Regions from separate parts of the Homo sapiens genome. Here all the other regions are reported to be linked to region 4. The links are microRNA targets in miRTarBase. Many come from high-throughput screens and were not tested one by one. Region 4 holds a microRNA gene; each other region holds the end of a gene's coding sequence.

Evidence for each region. Region 4 holds the annotated microRNA hsa-miR-26a-5p (UUCAAGUAAUCCAGGAUAGGCU, at 921-942, opposite strand). A microRNA usually pairs through its seed, bases 2 to 8, with sites in the 3' UTR of a target mRNA and lowers its output. Matches are read on the target gene's strand: a 7mer-m8 pairs with bases 2 to 8, a 7mer-A1 pairs with bases 2 to 7 and ends in A, and an 8mer does both.
Region 1: miRTarBase lists BLOC1S2 as a target of hsa-miR-26a-5p. Seed matches in the 3' UTR shown: 8mer at 763-770.
Region 2: the mRNA of FUT8 is a reported target of hsa-miR-26a-5p. The part of its 3' UTR that is shown has no 7-base or 8-base seed match.
Region 3: the mRNA of SLC25A30 is a reported target of hsa-miR-26a-5p. Seed matches in the 3' UTR shown: 7mer-m8 at 1,265-1,271.

What each region holds. Positions count from the first base shown.
Region 1 is chr10:100,272,858-100,275,998 of GRCh38, reverse strand. It overlaps BLOC1S2 (biogenesis of lysosomal organelles complex 1 subunit 2), which reads left to right. Exons shown (of 5, transcript NM_173809.5): 5 at 506-2,706. The coding sequence ends at 537. Among named protein-coding and RNA genes, the nearest start is that of CWF19L1, 6.8 kb to the right of the region's middle.
Region 2 is chr14:65,741,762-65,744,933 of GRCh38, forward strand. FUT8 (fucosyltransferase 8) reads left to right here. Exons shown (of 11, transcript NM_001371533.1): 11 at 332-2,360. The coding sequence ends at 649. Among named protein-coding and RNA genes, the nearest start is that of MIR625, 270 kb to the left of the region's middle.
Region 3 is chr13:45,393,207-45,396,378 of GRCh38, reverse strand. It overlaps SLC25A30 (solute carrier family 25 member 30), which reads left to right. Exons shown (of 10, transcript NM_001010875.4): 10 at 364-3,063. The coding sequence ends at 405. Among named protein-coding and RNA genes, the nearest start is that of SLC25A30-AS1, 23 kb to the left of the region's middle.
Region 4 is chr12:57,823,738-57,826,909 of GRCh38, forward strand. It overlaps MIR26A2 (microRNA 26a-2), which reads right to left and starts at 955; the gene lies at 872-955. CTDSP2 (CTD small phosphatase 2) reads right to left here. Exons shown (of 8, transcript NM_005730.4): 5 at 2,609-2,665; 6 at 490-582; 7 at 167-352.

The DNA.
Region 1 (3,141 bases), not on the chromosome of region 4:
TTTAATAGAAAAACGGAATGTCAGAGTAAGAGGCTTATTTGATGGCCTTTTAAATATCTGTATCTTTCAAAATTGCTTTCCTGGAGTAAGGTGTAAGGATAAGAACATACAGGAGGAAACATACATTTATACTTCCTGAGGGTTCCAGTCTGGTTCCAGAGGGCACCTGGGACAGTGCTGAGAGAGGCAGTTTTTTAGTAAGGCTCCCGATAGGTCAAGTGACAGATGTGCCCCATCCTGGTGGAGCTGTCTAAGTAGGTGCTGTTGACAGGGTGAGGACTTCGTGAACCTGTGTTAGGCTCTCAGTTCTGAGTGTCTGTGCTTGAATTCTTATTCCAAGTTTTACAGATCAGTGATCCGTATATTTGGACAGATGATGAGATTGAAGCTAATAGATTTTTAGTAATATTATACATATTTTTTAAACTTGACTGGAAATGCTAACTAAAAACTGTCTTTGTAAGAGCCAGTTTTAAAAGATGTAACTCTCCCTCATCCCTCACAGAAGCCAAGTACAAGAAGCTGGAGAAGCGATGAGAAACTTATTTCTATGGGACAGAGTCTTTTTTTTTTAATGTGGAAGAATGTCTTATAAAACCTGAATCCTGAGGCTGATGAATTGTGAAAATTCCTCAAAAGGAAATTATGCTGGTCATCACAGGAACATCTCAACGTTCGAGTAAACTGGAGGACTGTGGCTATTCCTGAACCTTCTTTGAGACAGAATCCCTCAGAATCTCACACTTATAACTTCCTACCTTTTACTTGAATGCTTTGCCATATTCAGGACAGAGACTCTCACAAAGTTCAGAAAACAGCTGGACTTACCAGTAAAATCAAATGAGAGGACCTATTTTCTCTGGTAGTGGTTGATTACTACATTATTTTCTTAAGTGGCTGGTTTTTTAGTTACTATGTAAATGGTCGTTTTTCTGTTAATGATGCTAATGTGTTGTAAACAAGATTCTAAATTTAAAAAGGAAAACAAAACAAACTTGTTCTTTGCAGCTTATCACCTTGTGAATGTCGGTAACTTACTTTTCCATAATATTGCAAATAACATAAAATCTTAAAATAATTCCAAGCTGAGTCTTCTAGATTGAGCAGAAATGGTGAAAGGAGTATTGATAACTTGGCGTATGTGATGGGCCCCTCTTGTTTATTTTCTATGTGAGTCACATTGACATGCGATCAGTTTGGGAAATGTGATGAAAACAAAGACTAGATGGGTATGTGTGTTTATGTGTTGGGTAGGGAGGTGACGATTGCCACTCATAAAATAAAGGATTTTATAAAATACCTTCCTACTGTGTATGTAGGATTTGGGGGGATCTTAGGGACCTAATCGACTTCTTTGCACACTAAAAACATCAGACAATGGGACATACTGACTGACCAGTCTAGGTTGAAAGATAGGCAGCCTTACCCAGAACACAACATTAGCAGCTGGGAAGGTGTCTGAGGTCCCCAATTACATATCCCAAAGAGTTTCTTACTTCTGTTTCTGTCATTTCCCCTCTGTTCCAGACAGTCATCATTTATCCTCTGTTCTTCCTGGACTGTTGCTGTGGTCTCTTCTCATCTTAACTGTCCCTTCCAACCACCCTCCACACTGCTGCCAGAGCAATCTTAAAAATGTAAACTGGCCCTATTACTCCTGCTTAGAACCCTGTAGTGACTTATCATGGCCTCTGAAAAATCTAGACTTTCATTATGCATACAAGTCCCTTGTGTTTTTTTGTTTGTTTATAGACAGGGTCTCTATTGTCACCCAGGCTGGAGTGTGGTGGTGTGATAATAGCTCACCTTGACCTCCTAGGCTCAACTGATCTTCCCACCTCAGCCTCCTGAATAGCTGGGACTACCAGCACGCTCCACCATGCCTTGCTAATTATTTTTTATACAGATGGAGTCTCACTATGTTGTCCAGGCTGGTCTTGAACTGGCCTCAAGTGATTCTCTTACCACAGCCTGCCAGAGTGCTGAGATTGTAGGCATGAACCACCGTGCCTAACATAAGGCCCCTATTTAAACATTTTTCTTAAATAAAAAACAAAAGAATTAAACTGTAACTCTACTATCTTAACATAGAATCAGTCTTACCCCTTCTTCCAACCCTTTTCCTTTTCCGTGCATGTATTGATCTATTTTTTTTTTTTTTTTGAGATGAAGTCTTGCTCTGTCGCCTGGGCTGGAGTGCAGTGGTGCGATCTTAGCTCACTGCAACCTCTGTTTCCTGGGTTCAAGCGATTCTCCTGCCTCAGCCTCCCGAGTAGTTGAGATTTACAGGTGCCCACCACCATGCCAGGCTAATTTTTGTATTTTTAGTAGAGACGGGGTTTCACCATGTTGGCCAGGCTGGTCTCGAACTCCTGACCCCAAATGATCCACCCACCTCGGCCTCCCAAAGTGCTGGGATTACAGGTGTGAGCCACCGCACCCAGCCATGTTGATCTATTTTTAAAAAGTTTTTATTTCCTGTTACACTGTGTTCAGCTATCTTCAGCCACCTTAAATTCCCATGGATGAGTTTTCATAAACTTTTTGAAAATAGATTTAGATTTACGGGAAAGTTGCAAAGATAATACAGAATTTAATGGATGAGTTTTTTTATTGATGTGTAATAGATGTATGTATTTTCAGAGTACAAGTGATAATTTAATACATGTATATAATGTGTAAATATTAAATCAAGAGTTATTGGGATGTCCTTCACCTTAATATTTATCTTGTCTTTATGCTAGGAACATTATTTGAATTATTCTCTTTTACCTATTTTGAAATGTACAATAGATTAACATTAGCTATAGTTACTCTACTGATCTATCATAGGTCTTATTTCTTCTGTATTTGTGTCCACTAATCAAACTCTTCATCCTCACGTCCCCACCACCTTTCCTGGCCTCTGGTAACCACCAATCTACCTCCATCTCCATGAGATCCACTTTTTTAGCTCCCACATGTGAGTGAGAACATGTAATATTTGTCTTTTCTGTGCTTGGCTTAGTTCAGTTAACACAATCACCTCCAGTTTCATCCATGTTGCTGAGAATGACAGAATTTCATTCCTTTTATGGCTGAACAATATTCCATTGTGTATATATACCACATTTTCTTTACCCATTCATCCATTGATGGACA
Region 2 (3,172 bases), not on the chromosome of region 4:
TGGACCACTGTGTATGTAGCTCTTAATAAATGTTTGTTAAAATTAACTAATTCATATTCTTAAATTCTTTTGTACTATATAGAGATAGAGAGATTTTAATTGTAATAATCTTTCGTGAGTTTTTCTTCTTTATTTGAAAAAGGATCCAGACACAGAGATGAAGAATGACTTGTACCATCTTCTGAGAACAAATGGACTGAAAGCTTGTGACTAGAATCCACTACTTTTCAACCTCTTACTCCTAGAGCCCATCCTTTTGGCCAAGGGCTTTTAGATTGCTGTGAAGGAGAGTGTTTATATACTAACAATTTCTTTTAAATTCTTTCCCAAGGTCTGTCGAGTTGCTTATGAAATTATGCAAACACTACATCCTGATGCCTCTGCAAACTTCCATTCTTTAGATGACATCTACTATTTTGGGGGCCAGAATGCCCACAATCAAATTGCCATTTATGCTCACCAACCCCGAACTGCAGATGAAATTCCCATGGAACCTGGAGATATCATTGGTGTGGCTGGAAATCATTGGGATGGCTATTCTAAAGGTGTCAACAGGAAATTGGGAAGGACGGGCCTATATCCCTCCTACAAAGTTCGAGAGAAGATAGAAACGGTCAAGTACCCCACATATCCTGAGGCTGAGAAATAAAGCTCAGATGGAAGAGATAAACGACCAAACTCAGTTCGACCAAACTCAGTTCAAACCATTTCAGCCAAACTGTAGATGAAGAGGGCTCTGATCTAACAAAATAAGGTTATATGAGTAGATACTCTCAGCACCAAGAGCAGCTGGGAACTGACATAGGCTTCAATTGGTGGAATTCCTCTTTAACAAGGGCTGCAATGCCCTCATACCCATGCACAGTACAATAATGTACTCACATATAACATGCAAACAGGTTGTTTTCTACTTTGCCCCTTTCAGTATGTCCCCATAAGACAAACACTGCCATATTGTGTAATTTAAGTGACACAGACATTTTGTGTGAGACTTAAAACATGGTGCCTATATCTGAGAGACCTGTGTGAACTATTGAGAAGATCGGAACAGCTCCTTACTCTGAGGAAGTTGATTCTTATTTGATGGTGGTATTGTGACCACTGAATTCACTCCAGTCAACAGATTCAGAATGAGAATGGACGTTTGGTTTTTTTTTGTTTTTGTTTTTGTTTTTTCCTTTATAAGGTTGTCTGTTTTTTTTTTTTTAAATAATTGCATCAGTTCATTGACCTCATCATTAATAAGTGAAGAATACATCAGAAAATAAAATATTCACTCTCCATTAGAAAATTTTGTAAAACAATGCCATGAACAAATTCTTTAGTACTCAATGTTTCTGGACATTCTCTTTGATAACAAAAAATAAATTTTAAAAAGGAATTTTGTAAAGTTTCTAGAATTTTATATCATTGGATGATATGTTGATCAGCCTTATGTGGAAGAACTGTGATAAAAAGAGGAGCTTTTTAGTTTTTCAGCTTATTTACTTTGTTTTTTTTCCTGTTTCTGATATAGTAACTAATTCTTAACTCAGAGACATTGGTCCATTTTAATACTGAAAACCAATTTTCATTGGTACACATTACAAAATTGCTAAGAACACTGTTTGGGAGCTTTCATTCTCATATTTTGGACATTGTTTTAATTGAGTGAAATAATCATAACTCCTTGCTCCCAGAGAAGCTATCACCTCCATTTCTAAAACCATTTCAGGTTTGTTTGGTAGTCTTTCTTAATGTATTTATTATCGCTTTTTGTGAGTAGGGTCCTGTTTTATCCAGGAACCAATTTCTGCCCTAGCCTATCATGCCCTGCTTTTGAGAGTACCAGGTATCTTTGGGATTGGGAAGCTGGCTGTTTCAGAAGTATATGTCTCATAGTGTGCAGAACTTGGTGACCAAGTGAGAAGCGGGACCAATGGGAGACTCACAATGGACTGAGTCTTGGGATTATCTTTTCCAAATTCTTCCATGTTAGAATCACTTCAGAAAATAAGACTTTGATGCTTTGTCTCTGAGCATCATTTTTCTCCTCATAAAAACACTTCCTTATTGTATGTAGCCTGCCTCCTACAGAGGCCTGGTAGGTGTTACTGCATTCTAAAAGAAAAATGTCATCTCTGTAGGAGCGACTATCAGGCCTAGTGTGAAATATTAGGGATCCTAGGCAGAAGAGCTATTAGTCCTGGCCTTCATATCTTCACCAAATGAAAATACTGTATATAAAATTTCACCACCAAACTTAACTAAATTCTTTTTCTCAAGTCAAGCCTCCCAAAGAAAAAAGAAATTAACTTCCTACAGTGTCAGCAAGCAATTTTCCATTTAGTTTTGGTACAAATAAAAGTCATTTGAAACAATCTCCAACTGAGCGGAGGTAATTTTGATTATGAGTTATTTTGCAACTCGCATCTCACATGTCATTGGAACATCAGTAACTGTGGATCTGATTTGTGCCCTTATAGAAGATCCAAAGGTAAATTAAGTTAGTCTCTTTTCCTTCTAAATTGACCGAGTTCCAGGGGTGAAAGGACCAAAGAACAGAGATACGAAGGAAATAAATTAAGGAGTATTTCCCAAAGGGAGTCTTCAACTGAAGAGTTAATTTTTGACATTTTATCATTTGGTTCTAGAATTTCTCCCTAATTCTTTATATTTCTCTACTGAGATTTTTTTATTCACTACATGCATGTTTTCATTGAACATAACTATGTAGTGAATAAAACTATGAACCTTGAACATAACAGATGAACATAACTATGAACATAACCGAACAAAACATTGAACATAACTATATAGTGAATAAAAAAATTATTTGTTCTCAGTAGAGAACACATAAATAAAAAAATTATGTGTTCTCAGTAGAGAACACATAACTATGTTCAATGAGTTTAAATTATGCTTTAAAATTCTTTTCTGGTAAATTTGACATCTGGATAATCTTAGAATTGGTCTCCATTGTTCCTCTTTACAGAATGGTCAGATTTTGGGGGGAGGTCCCTCATATATTGAGTGATTTAGATTGTGTCCTGAACATTGTAATGTTTATGTTGTAGATTCTGTTATATTGCTCTGAAAAGTGCTGTGATATATACATATACACACATAAATATACATATACACAAAAATATATATATACAACATTTGTGTATTACATTTGTGTGTATATATA
Region 3 (3,172 bases), not on the chromosome of region 4:
GCCTTTGAGGAGAGCTTCCCAGGGCTTGCTAACTCTCTCTCTCTCTCTCTCTCTCAAAAGCTTACAGTGCTGGAAAGTTTTTCCACCACAGCAAAGCCACAAAAGCTTATCAGCGTAGATGCCATCTCAGAAGAGGCTGATACCAGGGGATTTACATATCTCAGCTGTGATCTTTCTGCTCCAAGCTGACCTTGGAAGATAGTTTGATGTGGTTAAGGGTGGAACCCCTTTTATTTAATCGTGTCCATAGCGTGGGTCTGCCTGTACCTATTTGTTATTAAGTGTGCCATTTGTAAGTCTGTTGTTATGCACTGGAGTTGTGAAGATGGCATTTTCTGTGTCATCCTTAACCCATAACCACAGTTCTTTGTGACATACGAGCAGTTGAAGAAATTGGATTTGTGACAAGCCAAGGCTGCATGAGACATCTTTCTGAAAATGGTAACTTCTGAAACAGCAAAGCTTCCTGTGTTTCACTCTGCTTCTCACTGCTTGGCTCATCACAGATTCTGGGATGTGAGCAACAGATGAAGACTGGGTTAGTTGAGATTGCTGTGTGTTGGCATTGGATGCTCTTCATCAAACGTTTAATGGCATAAACTAACATCCAAACACTAGTCTTTACCACTGAAGTGCCCTTCAACATCAAAGATAATATGTGAAATGCATGTTTCTTGCTAAAGAAAACTTGCAAGAAAATCAGGAGCGATGTATTGTTTTATTCAGGGAGAGTAGCTCCTGATGCATCTCAGCTCATGACTGAGAATCAGACTGCTCTAGAAAAGCTCACTGGAACCATGGAATGGAGCCTCCGAGAAGGTGTTATGGTTTCTGAATTTCTGGGAGATTTTGCTCCTTGTCAACTGAAGAAATTTCATGTATGGAGACCTGGACTGTTCAACCCCAGGTATAAACGGTGCAGGAAATGGATCCTAGGAATATCACACTGCTTTATCATTTCCTATTTTGGCAGGATCTTCCACTTATAATAAGTGATTTTAAGCTTTGAAGACTTGACATTTGTGAGAAATTGTTACAAAGTAATAATCTCTAAATTCGTGGTGGTGTTATGTGTTGGCTTTGAAGGTTGCAAGGTCTGTATTGGTGGGGGGTGTTTTCAAGCAGCTTAGGTTCTGTCTTAGGTCATGTTAGTAATTAGCTTTATGATTTTTAGCAAAGCATATGTATTTCTCAATGAGTAAAATGGGGATAATAACGTCTATTGATGTAGAGGGTCAAATGAAGAACAAATAGTAGCTGCTGCTACTTGACTGGAAAGGTAAATGTGTTTACATCATGCTGTGGAACAGCTCTAAACAGTCTATGTAGAAGAGGGGCATGTTCTCATGGGCTTCTCATGGTAATTGTGAATGAAGCCCTTTGTTAAGGTCTTGTTGAAGAAAGAACACTGTATAAGTTCAGGCTTTAGTACATTTTCCTTAGCAAAATGTTGGTAGTGAATCAAAGAGTTGATTTTTCCAGGTTTCCAGTTTTTACTTTAGTTTATGTTGTGCCTGTCTTGGACTTTCTGTTTAGTTTGGATGGAAAATACCTGCTTGAAATTTTAAAAATGATTTCTTTAGTGCATCTATTTAGCTAGTTTCTGATAGGTGGTATGTAATATTTTCCCTTTTTCTTTCCTTCTGTAGACACAATAAGTCATTCTCCCTCTTCTTTTTTTCTTTTTCTATTTTCTTATTCTTTACTCTAACCTGCTTCAGAGAAAGAGCCCTCTTCCTTCTTGTCTTCATCTTAGTCTTTTCAAAATAAAAGATGACTGTGAGAACCCCAAGAACTTCCACTTCTGGGAGGCAGCCACAGGACAGGGAACATATTTATTTGGGTCTCTTCAGTTCCCCCTTTGAGAACAACATTAAATACATGTTAGCTGGGGCTCCAGGGCATTCTCCTTCCACAGTAGTGCGGCCAAATTCCCAGTCTGGCCAGTCTCTTTGTTGAGACTGAATAGAAGGACTGCAGGTTTTTTTGGAGGATGAGATAATTTTTCCTCGCAGGCATTTTTCCCTTGCCTTCCTTATGCATGAATGGTCCCTTTGAATATTATTTCCAAAAGTGAGAGCTAAGACAAAGTCATCAAAAAGAGAGGATAACAGAAGGTGGGGGCGGGGGCGGGGTGCAGTGGGGTAGGGTTACCTGTTAATTGCTGAGACTCAGATGAAAGTCCAGCTCTCCCTGGGCAACCCTAGAGGGCAGCAGAGGACCCCAGAGCTCATTCAGGCCTTGCTGCTTGTTCTAAACTACACCTTAGGATTTTTTCTTCTTTCCAAAACATTCCATTGATTTTATAAAGACTTTCTATAGAGAGGCTTTCACTTTTGAGTTCTTTGAGTTTAAAGATTGCTTTTCTTGAAATGCTCTTTTTTTAATGTAGAAAAATTTTACTTTTTCAAATATGCATACAATTTTTAAAACAGTAGAAGCAAATTCATTTTAATGACCATGTAAAGAGCGAATGTCAGACAGTATTATTACCAGTTTATTCAAATTACATACATGTTCCTACCAAGGTGGAAAGAAATTCAAACCTCATGGTAAAACTTAAGCACGATTTAAGATAAAAGCATAGTATTTCTTCAGTGTAGACTTATTAAGTGCCTTATTGAACAGGATCTTAACCTGCTTTTTCTGTTTTTTTGAAAGAGTTAATGCAATTGTTGAAGCTTCTAACCAAGAAACAACTTAAGGAATTGGGAGACTTGGTCCCCTCGTTGTCAGGGTTCTGGCTATAAGTACCTCCCCACCTTTGGGTTTTCTTAAATATGCCAAAAGGAATTCTAGTTTTTATAACCAATGGGTTTTTTTGTTTGTGTGCTTATGGATTTGTGTAATCATTGATGCTTAATGTTGTGGATTCATAATATAAAAAGTGGCTCCTGTCCTTTATATTTATTCATGTGCTAGAAATAGTATGCATTATATAAAGAGTATGAAGTTTTCATAAGCCTTTATATTTCAAGCTCTTTATTTAAACATTGTTGGAATATGTGGCATAAGCCTTGTTTCATTTATTTAATAAACTGGAGTAATATATAATAATAAAAATGATTTCTGGTTATTTCAGATAAATAGAAACATTCAAACAAAGGCAAACTACATGGAGTCTAGAAGGCTGGAGTAGAAATAGTGTTGCAGCTGCAGACATTTCTCTCTG
Region 4 (3,172 bases):
GAAGATGTGGTGTCAATCTCCCGACTGCTGCTTCCCCCTCCCTCGCCCCAGAGCCCTAGAGGGTGGCTGGGTCTTCCTGGAGGGGTGTACTTCTCTGGTGGAGCCCACAGTTCCAGTCTGCTTCCTCTCCCAATCCCTACCGTGGAGACGCATCAGGAGCACTCACTGCATTCTCGGGGTGGAATATGTAAGAAGCAGGCGAGTTGTCCAGGATGAGGGTCTTTCTCAGGTCCCTCCCCAGGCGGCTGAGGTCCTTGACGTAGCAGCCCTGGTGGAACACGCAAGACTCACGGAATAGGCGGGCCCGGAACACCCCACACCGGTCCAGCAGGTCTGTCACAGGGTCGGCATACTAGGAGGAGAGAAGATGCCTTAGTTTGGATACACTCCTGGTCCTCCTGTATAACCCTAGGGACCAAAAGGGAGCTGCTGGACCACCCCCGTGGCCACCACACCCACTCCTGGTTCTTCCCTCTCACCCCTAGGTACCTTGGCCAGGCTGGCAGTGAAGAGAACACATTCAAAGAGTTCCCCCATGCGTCTCAGGAACTCATCCACATAAGGCCTCTTGAGCACATACACCTGAGGAAGAGCAGAGCAGCCTGTTGGAGGCATCCCTGTGATGAAGGTTTGCAGTACTGGGTACCTTCACCAGTTACACAGCAGCAAGGAGCTCTCAACCCCTGCAGCCCAGCCTCCTGGGCTACCTGGCTGGAAGCCTGCGGCCCCCTGAGACCCCACAGACCCGGAGAACTGGCTGTACCCCTCACCAGGCTTCCAATGGATCAGTGGTCCCAACCTCAACCTGGCTCAGGAAGAAGCGCACACACCATGTCCCAGGAGCCATCTCTGTTTCCGGCGGCGGACCATCAGCTGCCTCCAGAAACAAGTAATCAAGAATAGGCCTCACAGATGGAAACAGCCTATCCTGGATTACTTGAATCCAGCCACAGCCTCTATGGGAGCTTTCTGTCCTTGGCTCCGACAGGACAGTCTGTCCAGGTCATGATTAGGTAATGAATTGCACCAGGGAGAAGTGACTTTTTCCCCTCAATGACCATAGACTAGACAGACACCCTGCCGAGTCTTGCTCTGCACCCGATCTTGTGCTTGCTTCTGCCAGCCACCACTAACACCTTTGTCCACCCTTACGATCTTGCACATTTTGGGAAGTCCTTTGGCCACCTGACCCCCCATCGGTCTGCATTCTATTGCTTCCATGACTCTAGCCTACACAGCTGCTACTAGAACCATTTCCAAAAAGGTCCTTTTTCTTTTCTTTATTTACTTATTTTTTTTAGAGATGGGGTCTTGCTATGTGAGGCCAGGCTGGTTGTGAACTTGTGGGCTCAGGCATTCCTCCTGCCTTGGCCTCCCAGAGTGTTGGGATGACAGGTGTAAGCCACGGCACCTGACTCCCAAAGCTCCTTTACCTGCATTACTCCCGAGCTCAAAGAGAGTCGGCCTGCTGTGACTCTCCCTCCTAGAGTAGGCCTGAACTGGCCACCAACTCACCAGACCACTCAGAGCTCTGCAGGAACCCTCTGTTCTAGGCAGCCACAACTTAACTTCTGTTAGCCTGCCATTCCTTCGACCTCCAACAAGCCCCTTCCTCATCCCAGCTTTCATCAAGTCTGGCATCCTTTCACCCACCTTGGGCAGGTAGTGCTCCCTCATTTTAATCTCATCCTTTTAAAAATTATTCATACCCTTCCTTGTTAGCCAGGAGTTCACAGTGTATATCTGTTTGAAAATATGCCTTCATCTTTTCTACAAGGGTTTAGCACATCCCTATACCCTCAGCTAGACTGTCAAAGGGCTGCTGGACCAAGCCTAGTCCTGACCGGGGCCTGGCGCTGGGCATGGCAGGCCTTCTGGGCAAGCAAGCTGAGTAAATGGTCTTTCACTAGCAGTGTCACATGATCCTTAACCTGGGACTGCCTGGGCTGCAGGCTGGAGCCTGGTCTGTTTAGATTTGAGTGCTCTTTACATTGACAGACACACACTGAGCACTTCCTCAGGCAGAATCCAATGGAGGGCCCCAGGGAAGGCAGTCAGAGAAGGCTTCACAGAGGAGGAGATGTCTGGGCTGGGGAGGAAGAAAGTCACTAGCTATTCACAGTGGGGGTGGCAGGGGGAGCATGGGCAAGAGGGCATTCCGGGCAGAGAAAATGGTTACTACTGATTTCCCTGCCTGTTACAGGCAAAGAGATACCTGGTTAAGGTATCTTAACAGGTATAGATACCTTTCTTAAGGAACAGAGAAATGTAATAAATCATTTAACAGTGCTGGCCACGTGAGGGGATGGTGGTTAACAAACGATAGCTATTATTATTATTAAATAAAATGTAAACTATTCTTTTAAACAGCTTGGTTGCAAAGAGAAAACAAGGGAGACAGCTGGGTGGGATATGGGGCTGAAACTCTTTTTTTAAGGTGAGAAAGCCTTGAGTGAAAGATACCAATAAAAAGGGGAGGCTGGAGTTATAGAAAAGGGATCAACTGACAGAACCCAAGCCCTGAGATGGGTGGAGGACCCCAGTACAGGTGAGGCAGAAGGCAGACCCCCCACCCTCTGGGCTGGGTGTGGTCTGGCTGGCAGCTCACCTGGTGAGTGGTCCCCTCAATCTCTATAGGCACTATGAAGTCAGCATTGTTGATTGGCTGGAAGGCAGAAAAGTTAATGCTGTCAGCATGGTGGCAAAGAAACATGAGGCCCCCACCATACCCCTAGGTGGGTGGGGAGAAACAGGTCTTAAAGACTCCTGGAAGTGCCTCTGGCCACCTCATTAAGGGGTTCTCACCCTAGTTCAAGATGTGATACCCCATTCTGGTTTTCCCTACTCCTTAGCACCTCCACTCTGACAAATTCTACCTGGGCTGAGAGTTTTGGGGCCTGAGTTTCCTGAGGAGACAAGCAGGGGCAAGGGCCAAAGGTGATCCAACCACTCTTTTAGGCCTGCCCTGTACAGAGCCCTCGTGGCTGGCTTTCTGTGCTATGTGGCTCGGGGGCAGATGCAGCCTGTTGGGAGTGACTGGAGATAGCAGCCCTGGTGGAACACACAGGGTTCCTACTCAACATTCTTCAGTGGGGCCTCTAGATACCTGTGACACAGGGTGGCCAAAATGCCAGAGGCCTGGCCTTTTCCCTTCTAATCACTCTTCTTTCCT